2 linked regions of the Homo sapiens genome follow. The protein of the gene in region 1 interacts with the protein of each later gene in a biochemical or structural test. Each region holds a gene or a part of one and is shown in the gene's direction. Other genes may lie near its edges.

Region 1 (7,349 bases):
CCAGGAGGCAGAGGTTGCAGTGAGCCGAGATCGCACCATTGCACTCCAGCCTGGGCAACAAGAGCGAAACTCTGTAAGAAGAAAAGAAAAAGGCCAGGCACAGTGGCTCATGCCTGTAATCCCAGCACTTTGGGAGGCTGAGGTGGGCAGATTACCTGAGGTCAGGAATTCAAGACCAGCCTGGACAACATGGTGAAACCTCGTCTCTACAAAAATACAAAAATTCGTAGGGCATGATGGCGGATAGCATGTAATCCCAGCTACTCAGGAAGCTGAAGCGGAAGAATCGCTTGAACCTGGGGGGCAGAAGTTGCAGTGAGCTGAGATCATGCCATTGCACTCCAGCCTGGGCGACAGAGCGAGACTCCCTCTCAAAATAAAAGGAAACTCCATAACCACTAGTAGTCATTTCCCATTTCTCCTCCCCTCCCCTATGTCTATTCCACTTCTCTGCCCCAGGCAATCACTTATCTACCTTCTGTCTCTATATATTTGTATATTCTGAACACATTTTATATTCCTCTACATGTGTTATTTCTTTTCTTACACAACCCAGTGAGGTAGGTACCATTGCAATCTCCACTATACAGAAGTGGAAACTGAGTCACGAAGAGGTTAAGTACCCTGACCAAAGTTATATGGCTAGTAAGTAGCTCAGCCAGGCTTTATTTATTTATTTATTTGAGACAGAGTCTCACTCCATCACCCAGGCCAGAATGCAGTGGTGCAATCTTGGCTCGCTGTATCCTCTGCCTCCTGGGTTCAACTGATTCTCATGCCTCAGCCTGCCAAGTAGCTGGGACTACAGGCGTTCACCACCATGCCCGGCTAATTTTTCGTATTTTTGGTAGAGATGGGGTTTCATTATGTTGGCCAGTCTGGTGTCGAACTCCTGCCTTCAACTGATCCACCCACCCTGGCCTCCCAAAGTGCTGGGATTATAGGGGTGAGCCACCGCACCCGGCCTCAGCCAAGGTTTAAACCCAGAATTTAAATTCTAGGTGAATAGCTATGTTTTCTTTCCTGGGAATGCAAAATTTGATATTGATCTCTAGACAACGAATTAAGAAATAGATATAGCTTTGGCGATGTAATGATGTCATTCACTATGTGCAGAATTCATGCTTTTAATCCACTATGAAGGAGACAAAGGTCCTTAGAATCTAACATGATCATGATGTATAAGATACATGCAGAAATACTGATAGTAGATACCGCTCTATGCAGGAGACACAGCATCACACAGTTCAGGGGTGGAAGAGCACCTGGAAAGTATGAGCAATCAAGGATTTTTTTCTGTAGTAGTTAGCTTCTCAGTTGGCACTTAGAGAATGTGGCAGAAATTGCGAGCTGGGGTAATATGTGTTCCAGGTTAGGAAACAAAGGCCTAGAGGTAGGAATGAACAGGTTGTTTCTCCGATCCAGTGTGGCTTGAATGTAACATTCTCAGTCAGTGTATCACTTCCCATTTCGTGACATTAGCTACCGTTTATTTCTGTCTTTTAACGTCAAGCTCTTGACAGGTATTATTTCTAATCTTTAAGACAACCCTACAGGGTAGATATCATTAGCCTTGATATAGACAAGAAGATTGAGGTTCTTGAGGGGTCATAAGGCAAGTAAGTGATAGAGCCAAGATTTGAATAAGTGTCTTTCTGATGTCACATTCCTGCCCTTTCTACTTTATTGTGCTGTCTTACTTAAGGGAGATGGAAAGTTAGGTTGGTGCCATACTGAGAAAAGCCTTGATGGCTGAGGCGAAAAGTTTTTACTTACCTTGGCAGGTAGAGACATGATAGAGACAAAACTCAAGCTGAACTGTGGAAATACTACTATAATCATTTGGGCAGTAGAAATGACAGTCTAAATTAGGAAGGCAGTGGTGCAATCAGACAAAAGGGAAGTACATATAAGAAATATGCATCAGTGGTATTTAGAGACTTCATAACTGGGTGGGAGCAAGGCGTACAGAGGAGTATATAATATTTCTGAAACTTTGGTTCTCTTAGTTCTCAGAAGAGTGTTCTGTGACGGCCATGAACAGAAATACAGAGGAAACGAGGAGGAGCTGGCTTTGTGAGACTGAGGGAGGAAAAATGATAACCTTAATATGGGAGCTGAAGGTGCTGGTGACTTCTGTATCTATGTGAAGATGGGTAACGGGTAATTGGAGATTTAGTCTAGGGCCAAGATCCAGTTATCCAAAGAGTGGTGAGAGTCAAGGCCACAGTAATCAACAAAGAATATAAAGAAAAATGCAATCTTAGTGTCTACTAAAAAGTAGGAGAAACAAGGGAGCCATATTGAATACCTATTACCGGCCTAACACTGCGGAGACGTCTGGGAAGGGCCACAAACCTTTCCACAGTAAACCTCCAATCTTGTTCCAGAGATTAATTACTCTCATGAAACTATATGCAACTAGTACAAAACTTGATAGATTCAGGGCCAATCTGTAGGGTAAACACAAGAGTAACGGGATATTAGAAAAGAAAGACATTGATGTGCTTGGGGAATTTAGGAGGCGAGGAGAAGACAGACCAACACAAGGTATAAGAAGTAGAAATTGTGCATAGGCTGATACCAGGGTAACCCTGCTCTGAGCACAGTGACAGAACTTTGGTGTCTTCTCTGTTGTCAAGGGGATAGCATGGGGCTGAAAAAGTATAAACAGGCTTTGGGGCAAAGCAGATCCCAAAGCTTACAGCTCCCTTTTATTGATGGTATAAAATTGGGCAAATTACTTAGCTTTTTCAGTACTTGTTTCTTTTTCTTTCTTTCTTTCTTTTTTTTTATTTTTTTGAGATGGAGTCTCACTCTGTTGCCCAGGCTGGAGTGCAGTGGTGCGATCCCGGCTCACTGCAACCTCCGCCTCGCAGGTTCAAGCGATACTCCTGCCTCCGCCTCCCGAGTAGCTGGGATTACAGGCACCCGCCACCACGCCCGGCTAATTTTTGTATTTTTAGTAGAGACGGGGTTTCACCATCTTGGCCAGGCTGGTCTTGTACTCCTGACCTCGTGATCCACCCGCCTCGGCCCCGCAAAGTGCTGAGATTACAGGCGTGAGCCACTGTGACCGGCCAGTACGTGTTTCTTCGTTTTAAAAAAGTGAGTATATTTAATAAGGTGGTTGTTTACATTCAGTAAAATAGCGCATGAAAAGCATCTAACACAGGGCTTTAAACAGCAAGACTGGGCAAAACCTAAATAACATTTTCCTTATGTTGTCTTTTTTGCTACCACTTGCACCATACGATTACCCACATTTCCTGTCCCCTCCAGTGCAGCTTCCTGGAGACACTTCACACGTATGCAGGACTTCTGTACATCCTACTCAGGCACAGCTGTAGGCCCTACAAAGAGGGACCATTTACTGCCTCCTGCTGTCATTGATATTCGACAAACATTTATTGAGCACCTACAATGTCCTAGTTACTGTGCTAGGCCATTTTGGGGTATAGAGAGATAAAACAGATCTTAAAGTCTTCACGACACTTAAAGATGAGAAACAGTCTCTGGGTAAATAACTATCGGAGTTCAGAAGGTGGACAGAAGTGGTGGGCGGCGAGTCTGTGTGCAGTGAGCACCTAGCGGAAGATGGCATTATTTGCAGAAGAGAGGTCCTTTAAGCCAAGTCTTGATAGATGATTTCACCACGCGGAGATTGGGAAACGAGGACAAAGATATGAGAAGATATGTTGGCCACAGAGAGCCTCTCAAAGCACTGTTAAAGCAAAGCCAATACTTAATGGGAGGAAACTCCGTTTTACTTGCGTGGAGTCTTAAGTCATTAGATGCATGCTAAACAGAACTGTAACCCTCGCGAATAAAACGGCCACAGTGACAGCAGTGGGTAACGGCAGAGCTGCAACTACTCTGACAGGGGTGACGACTTATTTGGACGACAGTTGGTGAAACATTGTAAACTCTCAGAAGCTGCCGTTTCCAGACTTTGAGTTCATTCTTGTCGAATCCCCAGCTTGTTTTCTCAGCCCGGGGTGAAATGCGCAGCCAAAAGGCCCAATGAGCGTCAAAGCGAAAGGGCAGGGGTGGTCTCTTCTGCGGATATACCTTGGCTCCTCCCAAGTCCTACGAGTTTAAACTTCGACGCACCAAACATGGCTTCTTCGCGGTTCTGCTCCTTGTTTTATTTCGCTCCCACCTTTCGGCCACACTCAACATGGCCCTAACCGAAGGTTGGCATGCCTGTGGCACTGTCTCGGGACAGTTCTCGCGAGGTTTGCCTGGGCCCGACTGCTCCCGCCCTGCCTCGCGCCGCCGCCACAGCCGCTGCCGCTGGCGCCGCTCCTCCTCCGTGTCAGTTGTTGGGCTGTAATGGCGACTGGGCCGCCCCTGACGAAGTGACTCCCGGGCCGGGGAGCGGGGCCAGACCTGCGCCAGAGAGAACTGCAGGGAGCCGCAGCTCGGGGGGTGGCTTGCCCTGAGGGAGGGGAGGCAGCCTTTCCGCCTTGTCTTCCTTCCCAGCGGACCGGCGGATCCCCGGAGCCGGTGCGAGGAGGGCACCCGGTGCGTCCCCGGAGCGGGGAGGCCAGGCCGGGCAGCCCTGGGGCCGGTCGGGGCGGCGTCACTGCACCCTCCGCCAGGCTCCGCGGGATGCACCGTGGTAGCCGAGGGCGGAGGCGACACTCTCAGGTGAGCTCCTGTAGGACCTGGCTGGGACCGCGGAGTCTCGCTCAGCCTCAACTGTCTCTGTCCGCGGTCCCGGGTCCCCGGTGGCGGCAAGAGAGGCGGGGCCGGGCGCGGAGAGTCTTGGCCCTGCTTGGCGTCCCCCTCGGGGAACCTCCCTGGGTTCTGAGGCTTTTCGGGGACCTAGGTTTCGGGTCCCACCAGTGCCTGCTGAAGACGGAATTTCCTTCCTTACGTGCCAGTGTCCTCCCGCCTCCTCCACCCCTCCTCTAGCCTGCAGAGGTAAGATACCTCTAGCCTTTGCTGCCCGGAGAAGTGTCCCTTCTTCATCTGGCGATCAGGCGTATTTGGGGAGATTCCGGGGACTGGCTCCAGTGGCAGGGATGATCAGTTTCTGTTCCTTTTCAGTGGGGATCACATTCTCAAGTATAGGGAAAACTTTGATCTACTCTAGTCTAGCGGCTGCTGAAGGTAGTTTATTCACAGATAATTTGGGGAAAGATTTAAAAGGCTTTATGTTTTGGAAGTTGTCAGTATTTTCCTCTGCCTTTTAAATGCAGCTCAACATGCTAAGTAATATTTAGCTAATGTCACAAGATATGAATTGGAATTTGCCTGGATTTTAAATATTCAGATAGAAAGTTGCACATAGGCATAGATTTTAATGTTTTAATGCAGTAGCAAATCCTTCATATGGGAAAAAACAGGTTGTCAGAAATAGTGATCAATATCCATGTACTCCACCTGATTGTTTTGTTTTGATGGTGATCCTTGTTTTGAATTTGGGGAAGTCGTTATTGTTGCCATGTTAACGATACCTCCTGCCCTGTATTTGAAGAGTTTTAAAAGAAAGACTATCTTTGGCAGAGCTAGTAACAATCTGAAAAGTTCTGTAGAAACAATGATAAAATACTAAAAGTTGCCCTCCATTCTGAAAATTTCTTCGTTTAATATATTGTTTTTAAACAAGGAAATGCACTGCTAATGACATGGAATTGTGACTTTGAGGGATTGTTAGACCCATGCTGGAAGTTGCTTCAAAGCCATGGGCGTATAATAATTAGTTTCGGTGTGCTAAATTGACAAATTTTATTTAATGTAATGAAATAAATCTGAATCATTTGAACTGTCAGTGCATTAAATTTAAGATACTGTAATCTGAAAATAAACTTCAAGCTAGAATACATTGTATATGTGGATAAATACATGTGTATCTCTGTATCTCTTCATCCTCAGTAGCAAAATTTTGTGTATGTAGAGATGGCAAGTTGTATATGTAAAAAATTTCATACGTATGTGAACATATTTCTTTGATTTTCTGAGATAAATTGGTGTGTGTGTCATGTAAGAGCGTTAATACTTAAACAGCCAACCTTCTGTGGGGCAATCAATTTATGAATTATAAAGTTTTTGGATTTTTTCCTTCTGCTTCTGATTGTCAGTCTTTTGCCCATTTTATAACACTTCTACCATATATGAGCAGAAGAAAGGAGATGAAGTACTGCTATAATCAATTTTATTTGTTAAATTGCTATAATTTATAGTGGGAGCAAAAAAGAAGTCTAAAATAACTGACATCAGTTTTTGGTGTGCTTCTATATACATTATTTTATTTAGTTTTCACAGTGATCTTGTGAAGTAGGTATGGCAGATATCCTTATTTTGCAGTCGTGGAAACTGACACACAAGGAAGATCATTTATGTGAATGCCTCTCATTTCTGCAGATAATGTGGAATTATTTTTATTTTAAACTAAATATTAATATAGGTGCTCTGGCATTTGGTGTTATTTTAAAATATTAAAAAATTATTCTATTTTTGTTCCTTTTTACATGCCACTTGCCCCTTATGCTGATGATCGTCAGTTCTTTAAAAACATTAGTATTTTTATAACGTTTTGTTAATTATTGACAAGTCATGAATTATGATGGATCACTTACTTCTTTATGTATATACTTTTTGCTTGAACAAGATTATTAAAGTGTAGTTCATTTATTATCTTTCACTTTGGATACTCAGTTCTGTCATCTTTATTCTTTCAGTCATTTATACTCTTAGTTATGTAAAACAAACATTCAAGCCACATGATCAGTAACATAACTGAAAAGTAGTAATATCTTGATGATTTTATTGTTGAGACAACTGATGATTTAAAAAGTTAATTCTCTGCATATAATTGTGATTGTTATTTTTGCAACATGAGGCAAATTTTAGTGTTATAGTGTAAAAAAATCATCAGATTGCATAGTATTTTTTTCTGTATTGATTTGTTGTTGTTGTTGTTCATTGTTATCATAAGTGTGATTTTACATTTACTTGTGGTTATTTTGAGTTATTCTTTGCCTTTCTCATCTGGTCTGTAAGTTCCATGATGGCAGAGATCCTTTAATCACTATTATGCACCCAGTGCCTAGCATATGGTAACATAGTCAATAAATACTAATTGAAGAAATTGACTAAAGAATAGTCCCAGAATAATATTTTAAATGCAAAACAAAACAAAAGACTAGTTCTTAGTTCCTAAGCACACCTCAACTCTTGGGAATATATTCCAGAGATATGCTCAGATTTGCTGGGTAGCAAGGGAATGACAGCCTGGGATTAAAAAGCCACTGGGAATAAGCCACAGTGGAAACTTCATTTACTATTTTAATGATTTGCCTAGGTGCTCTGGCAACAGGTTACGGTAATTTAAAGAAAAT
Region 2 (7,000 bases), on another chromosome or scaffold:
ACTGCTCGTTCAGGTGCCTTTCTCCTTGCCTCTTCACCATGGCCTTCTTGTGTGATATATGCCTTAACCCATTCAGGAAGAATTGCTCCTACTCAGCCTTTCAACCCGACCTGTGGTCCCTTAGACGCCTTCCCTTAGGGCCTGGTAAGAGGATAGACAGTGTAGAGCACTAGCCTGGGAAGCCATTAGGCCTCTGCTTTGGGCCTACAGCTGTCCTGACTGTTGTGCAAGCTGTCTTCAGGGCCTGCAGATTCTGGCACATCCTGGGATAGTGCAGCTCCTCTCTCTCAGGAGTTGGACCTGTCACTTTTTTTTCGTTTTTTTTTTTTTTTTTTTTGAGATGGAGTCTCGCTCTGTCGCCCAGGCTGGAGTGCAGTGGTGCGATCTTGGCTCACTGCAAGCTCCATCTCCCAGGTTCACGCCATTCTTCTGCCTCAGCCTCCTGAGTAGCTGGGACTACAGGCGCCCGCCACCACGCCTGGCTCATTTTTTTTTGTAGTTTTAGTAGAGACAGGGTTTCACCGTGTTAGTCGAGATGGTCTCGATTTCCTGACCTCGTGATCTGCCCGCCTCAGCCTCCCAAAGTGCTGGGATTACAGGCGTGAGCCACCACAACCAGCCTGGACCTGTCACTTCTAAGGGCTTCAGCTATATCCTGTCCCTGAGGCCCACCTCCCTGAGTGCTCTCTGCAGGCTGGGAAGCTGAACAGTGGTGCCTTGCTCCAGTGCCTCTGAAGGGCTTGGAAATTGCAGGACACAGCTTTACTGCTCAGCATTGCCCACACTGGAAACATTCTCTTCCTCCCTACCCAGGTCTCTGTGGGCTTTGTCCGTTCTGCCAGGCCCTTGCTTATATGATGTCAGAAGCCCTGTGCCCGGTGCCATTGTCAATGCCATGTCCCAGATTACCTAATGGCTGCTTCTTGGAGATGGTTTGGTGTCCATGCACATTTTTCTCTGCCGTTGGAGCCAGGGTGAGGAGCTGCTTGCAACAGCTGGATTCCAGGGTGTCAGAGGAGCCCTTGGAGCTTGCCTTGAGCCTGGCAGGGAGAACATGGCCCCTTGCATCAGGTTTCAGACATATGGGTCTTCTTCCTTGGCAGATGGCTCCTAGCCTTCATAACTCAGCAGGCTGGTGATTGGCATGTGACTCCAGTTCATTCTGCAGGGGCTTTGGTGAAGGCATCAACTATGACTCAGGACATCTTCATTTATGAGCTTCTACCCAGCTCCCTTCTTACCTTGCCTGCGCCTTCTGCGCCGACCTGATAAAATCAGCAAAGCCAGTGTCTGCTTACTTGGGAGTGAGCAGACTCCTTCCAGGATTGGGGAAATATTTGCTGACTCAGGCTCAGAATCACATCTCAGGGTGGTGTGTAAGGGACCGACGAGGAGCCAGATTACCTTAGGAACACTCTTTGAGTTACGGTGGGTATAACTTATTAGAGTTGCTTTGAGGGCCCCTGGCACCTGTCAGCTAAAGCTGTTGGGGTTTTTTCTATCCTGCAGTGTTGTACAGTGTTTTGGGCATGCACGTGATACTCACACAGTGGCTTCTGCTCACCAACAGATGAAGACAGATGCACCAACGAGGTAATCCCATTTTCTTTACTCAGGGGTCTCTGACCACCACTGACACAGGATCCAGATTTAAGATCCTGACCTTGAAGATGAAATAATTTCACTAGGGCTTATTCCCAGATTCCAGGTTCCTGTCACAGCATCTGGTACCAGTTGCTTATGCATAGTATAGGCATTTATTAAGTAATTATTGAAAGTCTATGGCTTACATAGTTTTTTCAGGAGCATGGAGATTCCCACCTTTGCGCCCATTAAAAGATAAACTCCACAGGGCAGGGAGTTGTTTTGCTGCCTGTTGTGTCTAGGATAGTGCCTGGCACAGAGGAGATAATGAATAAATTTTTGTTGAATGAGTAAATGAACGAACTTTCGTCTTTGCCTATATGGGTACCTAGGGTGCCAGGCCACAAAGATGGTGTCCATCATTCTCTCTTATTAGGGGGCAAATATATATATATATATATATTTTGTTTGTTTGTTTGTTTTTGAGACGAAGTCTTGCTCTTGTCCCCCAGACTGGAGTGCAATGGCGTGATCTTGGCTCACTGCCACCTCCTTCTCCTGGGTTCAAGTGCTTCTCCTGTCTCAGCCTCCCAAGTAGCTGGGATTATAGGCACCTGCCACCACGCCCGGCTAATTTTTGTATTTTTAGTAGAGATGGGGTTTCACCATGTTGGCCAGGCTGGTCTGGAACTCCTGACCTCAGGTGATCCGCCCGCCTCAGCCTCCCAAAGTGCTGGGATTACAGGCGTGAGCCACCGCACCTGGCCTTTTTTTTTTTTTTTTGAGATGGAGTTTCGCTCTTGTTGTCCAGGCTGGAGTGCAATGCCGTGATCTCGGCTCACTGCAACCTCCGCCTCTTAGGTTCAAGCGATTCTCCTACCTCAGCCTCCTGAGTAGCTGAGATTACAGGCATGCGCCACCACATCTGGCTAAATTTTGTATTTTTAGTAGAGACGGGGTTTCACCATGTTAGCCAGACTGGTCTCAAACTCCTGATGTCAGATGATCTACCCGCCTCAGCCTCCCAGAGTGCTGGGATTACAGATGTGAGCCACTGTGCCCAGCCGGGAACAAATATTTTTAAGTGCCAACTATGTGCCAGGCACTTGGGAAATGATAATAGTAAAAAACAGATCCAATCTCTGCCTCATGGGTCTGTGGTTTGCTGGTATATATGAGAGCTGGCCATAACACACAGAATTGTTTCTTCCATCTCTGCAGGGGTAGGAGGTTCTCACCAAGAGTCTGAACAATGCTCTGGGTTCCCATTGCTGTTTCCATGTTCTCAGGATGCCTGGCAGGTTTTATAAACTCTCAGAAGTGGAGCTCCAGGGAATACAATGTTCATTGTCCTATTTGGAAGGCTGGGTTGTTGTGGGTCCCTGCTGGGGGCCGGGGAAACGTGGGCCTCCTGCCTGATTTGTTTTAATCTCTGAAGTTCAGTGGTTCCAGTAGCTGTTTGTGGGCTTCACTTCCCCTTCTCTGCCTTTAACACCCTGCAGGTTTTCCTGTTGTCAGACAGGGTGGTGAGTCCCTGTGTCTCTCTGTCTGTGGGGGTCAGGTTGTTTGTAGATCTTTCAGGAAGGTCCTGGGTGGGGGGCCCTCCTGCTTTCAAACCCATACCAAGTGCTTTCCTCTGAAGGGAATGTGAGGGAGGAAGAAGGGGGGAGTTTCAGAGACTTCTGAGGTTCCCCAAGAGGGAAGAGGTCAAAGTACCTCCTGAGCGGGGAGAGCTACTGAGTTGAACTGATTTGCTTTGCCATTTGCTTTAGCAGCAGCCAGGCCCAGTGGCAGCAATTGTACGTGCATTTCCAGGGGTCAGTTGTCCAGTTCATCCCTGAGCCTTGAGCTCCCAGTCGCAGGTAGGAACTTCTCTTCTCCTTTCTTTTTTTTTTTTTTTTTGAGACGGAGTCTCGCTCTGTCACCCAGGCTGGAGTGCAGTGGCGCGATCTAGGCTCACTGCAAGCTCTGCCTCCTGGGTTCACACCATTCTCCTGCCTAAGCCTCCTGAGTAGCTGGGACTACAGGCGCCCGCCACCACGCCCGGCTAATTTTTTGTATTTTTAGTAGAGACGGGGTTTCACCGTGTTAGCCAAGATGGTCTCGATCTCCTGACCTCGTGATCCACCGGCCTCGGCCTCCCAAAGTGCTGGGATTACAGGCGTGAGCCACCGCGCCCGGCCTCTTCTTTCTTTCTTGATTGGGTACTGCTATATCACCTAGGACCAGGGGTGTGTCCAATCTTTTGGCATCCCTGGGCCACATTGGAAGAAGAATTATTATCTTGGGCTATACATAAAATACACTAACACTAACAATAGTGATGAGCTAAAAATAAAAATGGCAAAAGAATCTCATGTTTTAATAAAGTTTACGTATTTGCGTTGGGATGCATTCAGAGCTCTCCTGGGCTGCATGCAGTCATGGGCCATGGGTTGGATAAGCTTGGCCTCCCTAGGCAGTCCTCTCACCACAGCCTCCCAAGTAGCTGGGACTACAGGTGCACACCACTGTGCCTGGCTAAGTTTTTTTTTTGTTTGTTTTTGTTTTTTTTTAATTTAATGGGTACATAGTAGTAGGTGTATATTTCTTTTTTTCTTTTCTTTTTTGTTTTTTTGAGATGGAATCTTGCTCTTGTCACCCAGGCTGGAGAGCAATGGCACAATCTTGGCTCCCTGTAACCTCCACCTCCTGGGTTCAAGCGATTCTCCTGCCTCAGCCTCCCAAGTAGCTCAGATTACAGGCGCCCGCCACCACGCCCAGCTAATTTTTGTATTTTTAGTAGAGATGGGGTTTTGTCATGTTGGCCAGGCTGGTCTCGAACTCCTGACCTCAAGTGATCTGCCTGCCTCAGCCTCCCAAAATGTTGGGATTACAGGCATGAGCTACCACACCCGGCCTTGTATGTCTTCTTTTGAGAAATGTCTATTAAAATCTTTTGCCCATCCTTTTATTAGATTATTCGTTTTTTTCCTATAGAGTTGTTTGAGCTCGTTATATATTCTTGTTATTAACCCCTTGTGAAATGGGTAGTTTGCAAATATTTTCTCTCATTCTGTGGGTTGTCTCTTCACTTTGTTGATTGTTTCCTTTGCTGTGCAGAAACTGTTTAATGTGATGTGATCCCATTTGACCATTTTTGCTTTGGTTGCCTGTGCTTGCGGGGTATTGCTCAAGAAATTTTTGCCCAGACCAGTGTCCTGGAGATTTTCTCCTGTTTTCTTGTAGTACTTTCATGGTTTGAAGTCTCAGATTTAAGTCTTTATTTTGATTTGGTTTTTGTGGATGGCAAGAGGTAGGGGTCTAGTTTCATTCATCTCCATATGAATATCCAGTTTTCCAAGCACCATTTATTGAAGAGACTGTCTTTTCCTCAGTGTATGTTCTTGGCACCTTTGTCAAAAGTGAGTTCACTGTAGATGTGTGGATTTGTTTCTGGGTTCTCTATTCTGTTCCATTGGTCTATGTGTCTTTTTTTTTTTTTTTTTTTTTTCTCTGAGACAGAGTTTTGCTCTGTTGCCCAGGATGGAGTGCAGTGGCGTGGCGTGATGTTGGCTCACTGCAGCCTCTGCCTCCCGTGTTCGAGCAGTTCTCCTGCCTCAGTCTCCCAAGTAGCTGGGATTACAGGCATGTGTCACCATGCCTGGCTAATTTTTTGTGTTTTTAGTAGAGATGGGGTTTCACCATGTTGGTCAGGCTGGTCTTGAACTCCTGACCTCAGGTGATCTGCCCACCTCGGTCTCCCAAAGTGCTGGGATTACAGGCATGAGCCACCGCGCCTGGGCGAAAGATGGCTTATTTTGAAGTCAACTTTAGAATATTATAAAACAGCATTCTCAAACTTTTTGGCCTCAAGATCCCTTTAGATTCTTTTTTTGTTTGTTTGTTTGTTTTTGTTTTTTGAGACGGAGTCTCTCTCTGTCACCCAGGCTGGAGTGCAGTGGCACAATCTCGGCTTACTGCAAGCCCCGCCTCCCGGGTTCATGCCATTCTCCTGCCTCAGCCTCCCGAGTAGCTGGGACTACAGGTGCCCGCCACCACGCCCAGCTAATTTTTTGTGTTTTTAGTAGAGACGGGGTTTCACCATGTTAGCCAGGATGGTCTCAATCTCCTGACCTCGTGATTCACCCGCGTCGGCCTCCCAAAGTGCTGGGATTACAGATGTGAGCCACTGCGCCAGTCCCTTTAGATTCTTAAAAATTATTGAAGACCCCAAGGGCTTATGTTTACCATGTTAGAAGTTATAATAGGCCGGGCGGGTGACATTCGTTAATATCACCACTGATCTCATTTTTAAAAAGTCTTTAAGTATTGGGAAGCTGTCGGGCTCACAGTGGTCAATACACGTTTTCTAAATTTGAGTTTTCTCTTGAAAGTTTGATTTTTATCATTGGTAACATACTGTTGGTTCTTTTGTTTGATTTTGTCTGAGATAGCATCTCCCTCAGTCACCCAGGCTGGAGTGCAGTGGTGCAGTCATAGCTCACTTGCAGCCTCCAACTTCTGGGCTCAAGTAATCCTCCTGCCTCAGCGTCCAGAGTAGCTAGGACTACAGGTATGTGCTACCATGCCCAGCTCATTTTAAAATTTTTTGTAAAGATGGTGTCTTGTGATCTTGCTACATCGACCAGGCTGGTCTTGAATTCCTGGCCTCAAGTGATCCATCTGCCTCAGCCTCCCAAATTACTGGGATTATAGGCATGAGCCACCACACCCAGCCTTTTTTTTTTTTTTTTTTTTTTTTGATATGGGGTCTCACTCTTGCCCAGGCTTGAGTGCGGTGGCACAGTCTTGGCTCACTGTATCTAGCCTTGACTTCCAGGCTCAAGTGATCCTTTCATCTCAGCCTCCCAAGTAGCTAAGACTACATGCATGCACCATCATGCCCACCTCATTTTTTAACTTGTTGTAGAGATCAGGTCTCCCTGTGTTGTCCAGGCTGGTCTCAAACTCCTGAGCTCGAGCCATTCATTCCTGCCTTGGCCTCCCAAAGTGCTGGGATTAAAGGCATGAGCCACTGTGCCCAGCCAGTTCTTTTTTGTTTTGTTTTGTTTTGTTTTGAGATGAAGTCTCACTCTGTCACCCAGGCTAGAGTGCAGTGGTGTGATCTCGGCTCACTGCAACCTCCGCCTCGTGGGTTCAAGTGATTCTTCTGCCTCAGCCTCCCAAGTAGCTGGGACCACAGGCGCGCACCCCAATGCCCGGCTAATTTTTGTATTTTTTTAGTAGAGATGGGGTTTCACCATATTGGTCAGGCCGGTCTCGAACTCCTGACCTCATGATCTGCCCACCTCAGCCTCCCAGAGTGCTGGGATTACAGGCGTGAGCCACCGCGCCCGGCCACAAAGAATATTTAAAAGACAGATATCAAAGGTGGAGATTTTAATAAAGTTAGTTTTTATTTATTCATCTAGGA

The links.
Region 2: the proteins of CEP350 (region 1) and PPARD form a complex in vitro, tested with the Homo sapiens proteins (one study listed by BioGRID).

The regions. Positions count from the first base shown.
Region 1 is NC_000001.11:179,950,490-179,957,838, forward strand, and holds the start of CEP350 (centrosome-associated protein 350), read left to right. Parts: upstream 1-4,320; 5' UTR 4,321-4,614; coding exon of another isoform or gene 4,615-4,653; intron 4,654-4,732; exon of another isoform or gene 4,733-4,929; intron 4,930-7,349. UniProt on the Homo sapiens protein: Plays an essential role in centriole growth by stabilizing a procentriolar seed composed of at least, SASS6 and CPAP. Required for anchoring microtubules to the centrosomes and for the integrity of the microtubule network.
Region 2 is NC_000006.12:35,345,558-35,352,557, forward strand, and holds part of PPARD (peroxisome proliferator-activated receptor delta), read left to right. Parts: intron 1-1,509; 5' UTR 1,510-1,580; coding exon of another isoform or gene 1,581-1,593; intron 1,594-2,805; exon of another isoform or gene 2,806-3,446; intron 3,447-6,020; exon of another isoform or gene 6,021-6,139; intron 6,140-7,000. UniProt on the Homo sapiens protein: Ligand-activated transcription factor key mediator of energy metabolism in adipose tissues. Receptor that binds peroxisome proliferators such as hypolipidemic drugs and fatty acids.